Homo sapiens: one gene and its partner. The protein of the gene in region 1 purifies or fractionates together with the protein of each later gene. This does not show direct contact. Each region holds a gene or a part of one and is shown on either strand. Other genes may lie near its edges. The genes, in order: ATF7IP2 and ATF7IP.

Region 1 (3,830 bases):
TATTTAATTTCTCTCAACATTCTGCAGTTTTCAGAGTATATGTTTTGTACTACTTTTTGATGCTATTATATATGCTTTCCTCAATCTCAGTTTTGGATTCCTCTTTGCAAGTATATGGAAATAAAACAGATTTATGTACACTGATCTTCCATCCTTCAACTTTGTTGAACTGGCTTTTATCTTTAATGGTTTGTGAATCTCTTAGAATTTTCTACATATTAAATCATGTTATCCGTGTATATTTTACTTCTCCCTTTCCAATTTCGATGCTTTTATTATTTGAAAAAAAAAAATGGGCTTCATTTTCCTGACTAGATCCTCCAGTACAATGTTGAATAGAAATGCCAGGAGGGGTCCATCTTGTTCCTGAATTAGCAGGAAAACCTCCAATCCTCCACTATGATGTTAACCGTGGGTTTTTTTACAGATGCTTTTTAACAAGTTAAGGAAGTTCCAAACTTTCCCTATTGTTTAATGTTTTTATCATGAAGGGACACTGGATCTTATCAATGCTTTTCACTATCTCTTAAAAAGATCATGTAGCTTTGTTCTCTTTGATATGGCACTTAACATTAAAGATTCTTGCATGAGAAATTTATTTTGCATTCCTGAAATAAATCTCACTTGGTCATGGTGTATAATCCTTTTATGTTAATTTCAAATTACTAGTATTTGGTTGAGGATTTTCACATCTCTATACATTAAAAAAACATCGTTCTGCAGTTTTCTTTTCCTATAGTATTGGGGTCTGCTTTTGGTATCCAAATAATACTAGCCTTACAGAATTATTTCAGAAATGTTCTGTCCTCTTCTATTTCTTGAAAGAATTGAAGAACTGTACCTTTAAATGTTTGGTAGAATTTACTAATAAAACCATCTGATTTGGGGCTTTTCATTTTGTCCTAATTCCACTGCTTTGTTTATGTTTGTTCAGATTTTCCTCTTCTTCAGTCAGTTCTGGCAGTTTTGTGTCTTTTTAGGAATTTGTCTGTTTCATCTATTAAATGGAGTACCATACAATTGGAATTATTCTATAGTATTCCCTTATAATTTTTTTTTTTAACTACTGGAAGGTCAGAAGTAATGTCCCCTCATTCATTCCTGATTTTAGTAATTTGAGTCTTCTCTCCCTTTTTTGTGCTCAGTTTAGCTGAATGTTTAATTTTCTTGATCGTTTAAGAAAATGATTTATGGTTTCCTTTTCTATTTTTGTCTATTCTATTAATTTCCACACTAATTTTTTCCTACATTCTGCTGACTTCAGGCTCAGTTTGTTCTTCTAGTTCCAGTTTTTCTTAAAAGGTCTAGGTTACTGATTTGAGGTCTTTTTTAATATAGCATTTATCACTATAAATTTTCTAAGAATTGCTGTAATTGTACCCTCCAAAACCTTTGATATGTTTGTCTTCATTTTCATTCACCTCAAAGTATTTTCTAATTAACCTCATGATTTCTTTGACCCATTATTTAGGAGTGTTAATTTCAACATATTTGTAAATTTCTCAAGTTTCTTTTTAGTACTGATTTCTGATTTTATTCACTGGTCAGATAATGTTCTTTCCCATAATTTCAGTCCTTTTAAGTGTGTTGGTTTGCTTCATGGCCTAGTGTGACTATATTGATGGATGTTCTACATACACTCCAAAAGTCTATTCTGCTGTTGTTGGGTGGACTGTTCAAAGATATCTCTTAAGTCTAGTTGGTTTAGTGTTGCTCAAGTCGTCTCTTGTCTCACTGATTTCCTCAGTTTTCTATCCATTATGACAGTGTTGTATTGAATTCTCCAATTATTACTGAACTGTGCATTTCTTCCTTCAATTCTGTCAATAGTTGCTTCATACATTTTGCTGCTCTCTTAGTAGGTGCATATATGTTTATGATTTGTATGCCTGAGGCACCAACTCTTCTGTCATTATAGAATGTCCCTATGTATCTCCAGCAATACTGTTTCAGTATATTTTGTCTGAAATCAGTATAGGCACGATAGCTTTACTATGGTTGCTATTTGCATGTTGTATCTTCATCTATCCTTTTACTTTCAGCCTATTTGCATCTTTGAATCCAAAGTCTGTCTCCTGTAAACAGCCTATAGGCCAAGGCTGTTTTTCCCTTCAGTATGAAAATCTCTGCCATTTCATGGGATTGTTTAATCCTTTCACACCTGACATTACTTGGTTGTTTTTGTTTGTTTAGAGATAGGTCTCTCTATCATGCACAGTGCTGAGATCAGAGCTCACTGCAGCCTTGAACTCCTGGGCTCAAGTGATCTTCCCACATCAGCCTACCAAGCAGCTGGGACTACACGTATGTGCCATCACACTCAGCTAATTTTAAAATTTTTTTGTAGAGACAAGGTCTTACTATGGTGCCCAAGCTCATCTCAAACTCCTGGCCTCAAATGATCCTCGGCCTACCAAGGTGCTAGGATTCCAGACATGAGCCACTGTACCTGGCCTTCATATTACTATTGACATACAGATGCTGTGTGACTTGCAGTAGTATTACATCCCAAAAAACCTATCAGAAATTGAAAATATCCTAGGTCAAAGATGCAGTTAATACAGGTACAACTAACCTACCGAGCATCATAGCAAAACCTAAGCCTACCTTAAACATGTTCAGAACACTCATATTAGCCTACAATTGAGCAAAATAATTTAACCCAAAGTTGATTTTATACTGAAGTCTTGAATTTCTCATGGCTTTATATTCTACCGAATGCCTATCACTTTCTGTAGCATCATAAACTAAAAATCATGTCAAATCACAATTCAGGGTCCACCTGTAGCTTGATTTATGTCTGCCTTTCACTTTTTGGCTTATGTCTCATGCCTTTTGTTCTATTCCTTTACTGCCATAGGATTTTTCCAATGGTGTCTTTTTTTTTTTTTTTTTTTTTTTTTTTGAGACAGAGTCTCACTCTGTCACCCAGCCTGGAGTGCACTGGCATTGAGGCAATCTCAGCTCACTGCAACCTCCGCCTCCCAGGTTCAAGCAATTCTCCTGCCTCAGCCTCCCAAGTAGCTGGGATTACAGGTGCCCACCACCATGCCCAGCTAATGCTTGTATTTTTAGTAGAGAGGGGGTTTCACCATGTTGGCCAGGCTGGTCTCAAACTTCTGACCTCAAGTGATCCGTCCACCTTAGCCTCCCAAAGTGCTGGAATTACAGGTGTGAGCCATCGCACCTGGCCTAATGGTTTCATTTTTAAAACTTCATTTTTCTTTTCTTTTGGAGACATGGATTCACGTTGTTGCTCAGGCTAAAGTACAGTGGGCATGAACACAGCTTACTGCAGCCTCAACCTCCGGGACTCAAACAAGACTCTAACCTGACCCTTCAAGTAGCAGGGACATCAGGGGCGCCCATCACACCCAGCTAATTTTTTTTTTTTTTTAAAGACAGAGTCTCACTATGTTGCCCAGGCTGGTCTTCAACTCTTGGGCTCAAGAAATCCTCCTGCATTGGCCTCCCAAAGTGCTGACATTAGACAATTTATGGGCCTGTGCCTGGCCTATAAATGGCTAACATTATGTTTATAATTTTTATATCAATGTTAATGAGAGATGGGTCTATTTTATTGGGTGTTGATATCAAAGGTTTGCTGACCTCATACAAACTACAAAGTCTTTCTAGTCTCTGAACAATTTCTGTGTGAATGGTGTTATTTTTCCTTAAATATTAGAATAATTAACCACTAATGCCATTTGGGCCTGGGGTTAACTTAGTGGTAAAGGTTTTCCATTAAAATTGAGGTAGAACCAGCTGGGAGCAGTGGCTCACACCTGTAATCCTAGCACTCTGGGAGGCCAAGGCTCAAACAGCCCAGG
Region 2 (3,830 bases), on another chromosome or scaffold:
GGTTGATTCAGAAGTCAGCTCATCAGAGGCCAGTTCACCAGTGGCCAGATCATCAGAGGCCAGTTCACTAGAGGATAGATCACCAGAGGCCAGATCATCAGAGGCTGGATCAGTGGAAGCTGGTGCTCCAGAAGCCAGATCAACAGAAGTTATTTCACTAGAGGCTATATCATCAGCGGCACAATCACCAGAAATGGGTTCAACAGGGACCGGTTCACCTGGGATGGGATCACTAGAGGTGGGATCACCAGAGGAGAGATCATCAGCAGTGGCATCACCAGAGGTGGCATCACCAGGGGACACATCACCAGAAGGGGCATCACCAGAGGTTGCATCACCAGAGGCAGCATCACTAGAGGAGGGCTCGCTAGAGGTGGGATCACCAGAGGTGGAATCACCAGAGGCCAGTACTCCGGAGGCTGGATCTCCGGCATCCAGATCACCAGGGGCTGGATCACCAGAAACTGGTTCAGCAGGCAGTTTAGAGACTGGTTCTGGAGTTATATTATGGGGAGACAAAGGTTCACAATTTAAATCATCATCCTGCTTGTTTTTTACATTAACACTTAGGATACAGGGTGTTTCCTTCCATTCTGCTTTACTTCCTTCAGGATCAAAACAAATCTCTTCAATGCCATTCACCTCTTCCTTGTCTTTAATGTAATCCATGTTTTCCAAAGGTGAGGTTGGGTCCAAATCTCCATTTTCATGGTTGCCATTTAACAGCTTGACATCAGTTTTCAACAGTTCTTCTTTGACCTTGTACACTGCTTCAAGTTGCTGACGATCACTCACTCTCATCGTTTTTCGAGCCTTAAAGACTTTTTTCTGAGGTTCTTCTAAACTGTCCATTCTGAATCTTTAAGAAAAAAGAGAAAGAGAGTTTAATAACTGAAACAGAAGCCACCTAATTGTAGACTTAATACAAATTGATCTTAGAAGAGATGCAAGCAGCACATTTCATGTAATGTTTAAGACATAGAAAACCTACTGCTTGTTGTATACTAATTATCATATTTACTGCATCTGTGTAATACAAAATCAAAAATGGCCATAGTCTACTAGAAAATCAACTAGAAAGTATTAGGGGGAAAAGGGACAAGTTTTTTTTTCCAATATGGAATTCACAGAGTATGGAGATGTTTAAGCAAAAAAAAGGTAGATAAAGTAAAAAAAAAAAAAAAAAAAAAAAAGTACCTGAAGAAAATGAGAAAGAAAAATAAAAGTGTAAGAACAACAGTAGGGAAATAACAGGTATAGAGATAAAGGAAAAAGGAGGAAGAATTAAGAAACATGTAAGGAAAGATTACATTTGCAACCAAGCATACTTAGATTGGCAGAACTATAAACATATTAACAAAAGATTACCATCAAGAAAGAAAATTCACAACAATGGGAGAAAATATTTGCAAATCATATGCCTGATAAGACTTTTATCTCGAATCTAGAATTTCATATCTAGAATACAGAATATATATTTATATAGAATACAGACTTTTATATCTAGAATATCTAAGAACTGCTATAATTCAATAATAAATCACCCAATTTAAAAATGGTCAAAGGACTTGAACAGACATTTCCAGAAAGAGACCCCTAAGCCAAAAGTCCATAAGCAATAAACATCATGAGACATCAGGGAAACGCAAGTCAAAACCACAATGAAATAACACTGCACACACGACAGGACGGCTACAATCAACGAGAATAATGAGTGTTGGCAAGGATGTGAAAAAACTGGAACTTTCATACAATGATAGTGGGATTGCAAATAGGTGCAGCTGCTTTGGAAAACAGGCAGTTCCACAATATGTGAAGTACAGAGTTGTCATATGACCCAGTGATTCCATTCCATTCATTTCCCAAGAGAAATGAAAACATATGTCCACACAAAAACTTGTACACAAATGCTCTATAGAGGCACTACTCATAATGGCCCAAAACTGGAAACAACCTAAATGTTCCATAACTGATGAATGGATAAATAAAATGTGCCATACCCCTACAACAGAATATCATTCAACCACAAAGGGGAATGAAGTACTGAACATGCTACTACATGCATAAACCTTAAAAATATGCTGAGTGAGAGAAGCCAGTCACAAAAGGCCACATACTGAATGATTCAATTTATATGAAATGTCCAGAGTAGGCAAATCTAGAGACAGAAAGTAAATCAGTGACTACCTAGGGTTGGAAGATTCTGGAGAAAATGAGGAGTAGCTGCTAAAGGGTACAGGATTTCTTTACAGGGTTATGAAAATGTTCTAACATTGATTATGGTGATGATTATACAGCTCTGTGAATATACTAAAAATAACTGAATTGTACTTTAAGTGGGTGAATAGTAGATATGTGGTTTTATCTCAGTAATGCCACTACAAAAAAATTTCAAAATAAATACAAAGGTTGTGTGTGTGTGTGTGTGTGTGTGTGTGTGTGTGTGTGTGTGTGTATTCTCTTTTTTTGGTAAGTTGTGCTACAGTTTTATCAATTCTATTCACTTATTAAAGTATGAACCTTTACTTGGCTGATATTTCTTGGTTTTATATCTGCTTTCTTGTTTTAATTATTTACTCTAATATTTATTATCTCTTTTCACTTACTTTTTCTTGGAAAGAGCTTAACATGTCATCCTTTTCCTTGAGATTCAAGCTTAAGTGTTATTTTCAATCTTTCTTCTTTTGTAATGTGTGCATATAAAGCTATAAATTTCCCTCTAAGAGCTGCTTTAGTTGCATCTCACATTTTAATGTGTCATTTACATTATTCTGTTAAAATATTTTCTAATTTCCATCATGATTTCTTCTTTCATCTATGACTTATTTAGAAGTAGGTTTCTTAAAAAGGTAATGAATTCTGACCAAGTGAAGCTCGCTTAGAAAAATACAAGGCTGATTTCACATTCAAAAATCAAGCAGTGTTGACCATGAACAAGCCATGATGCATTCTGACTTTATTTCATGCCCAGCAGAGTGTACAATTACGAGTTTTGCCTAAACTGAATGTCTGGTACCAGGATGTTACTGACTGAATTGTGCAGCATCCCACACCCCACATCCCCAGAAAGATATTAGTCTTAAGCCCCAGTACCTCAGAATGTGACCTTATTCGGATAGGGCCTTTACAGTGGTAATCAAGGTAATATAAGGGTACTAAAGTGAGCCCTAATCCAATACAATTGGTGTCCTTATAAAAAGGGGAAAATCTGGACACAGACAGACATGCACACTGGGAGAATGCCATGTGACAATTGAAGTTATGGTACCACAAGCCAAGCAACTACCAGAAGCTAGGAGAGAGGCCTGGAACAGATCCTTCCCTCAGCACCCTCAGAGGGAGAATGGCAATGACAACACCGTGATTTCAAATGTGTTGCCTCCAGAACTCTGAGACGATAAACTTCTGTTAAGCAAAAAAGAAAACCACAAAACAAATCAAGCTATTTAATTCACCACATAAACAGAACAGAGGGACAAAATCAACAAAGGATTACCTCAACAAATACAGAATATTCATTTGACAAAATTCAAGACTGATGCATAATTACAACTTGCCAGAAACTAAGAATACAAGGAAACTTACTCAAATCTGATAAAGGTTATCTACCAAGAAAACTAGAGATATCATGTCTGATATTGAAATAGGATCAGAAGAAAACAAGGATGTTTCCTGTAACCATTTCCTTGTTAACATCTGGCCAGTGCAATAAAGGCAAACAAAAGAGCACAAGGATGTGGTTCTGAAGAAAAACAATGTCATCAATCAATAGTAGAATAAAACAAAATTGCTTTAAGGACTAAGATGTACAGGAGGCAGGAATACTGTTT

Evidence for each region.
Region 2: the proteins of ATF7IP2 (region 1) and ATF7IP purify together in Homo sapiens (affinity purification with mass spectrometry; one large-scale study listed by BioGRID and IntAct). This does not show direct contact.

The regions. Positions count from the first base shown.
Region 1 is NC_000016.10:10,392,391-10,396,220, reverse strand, and holds part of ATF7IP2 (activating transcription factor 7-interacting protein 2), read right to left. Parts: intron 1-3,830. UniProt on the Homo sapiens protein: Recruiter that couples transcriptional factors to general transcription apparatus and thereby modulates transcription regulation and chromatin formation. Can both act as an activator or a repressor depending on the context.
Region 2 is NC_000012.12:14,420,938-14,424,767, reverse strand, and holds part of ATF7IP (activating transcription factor 7-interacting protein 1), read right to left. Parts: intron 860-3,830; coding exon of another isoform or gene 853-859; coding exon 1-852. UniProt on the Homo sapiens protein: Recruiter that couples transcriptional factors to general transcription apparatus and thereby modulates transcription regulation and chromatin formation. Can both act as an activator or a repressor depending on the context.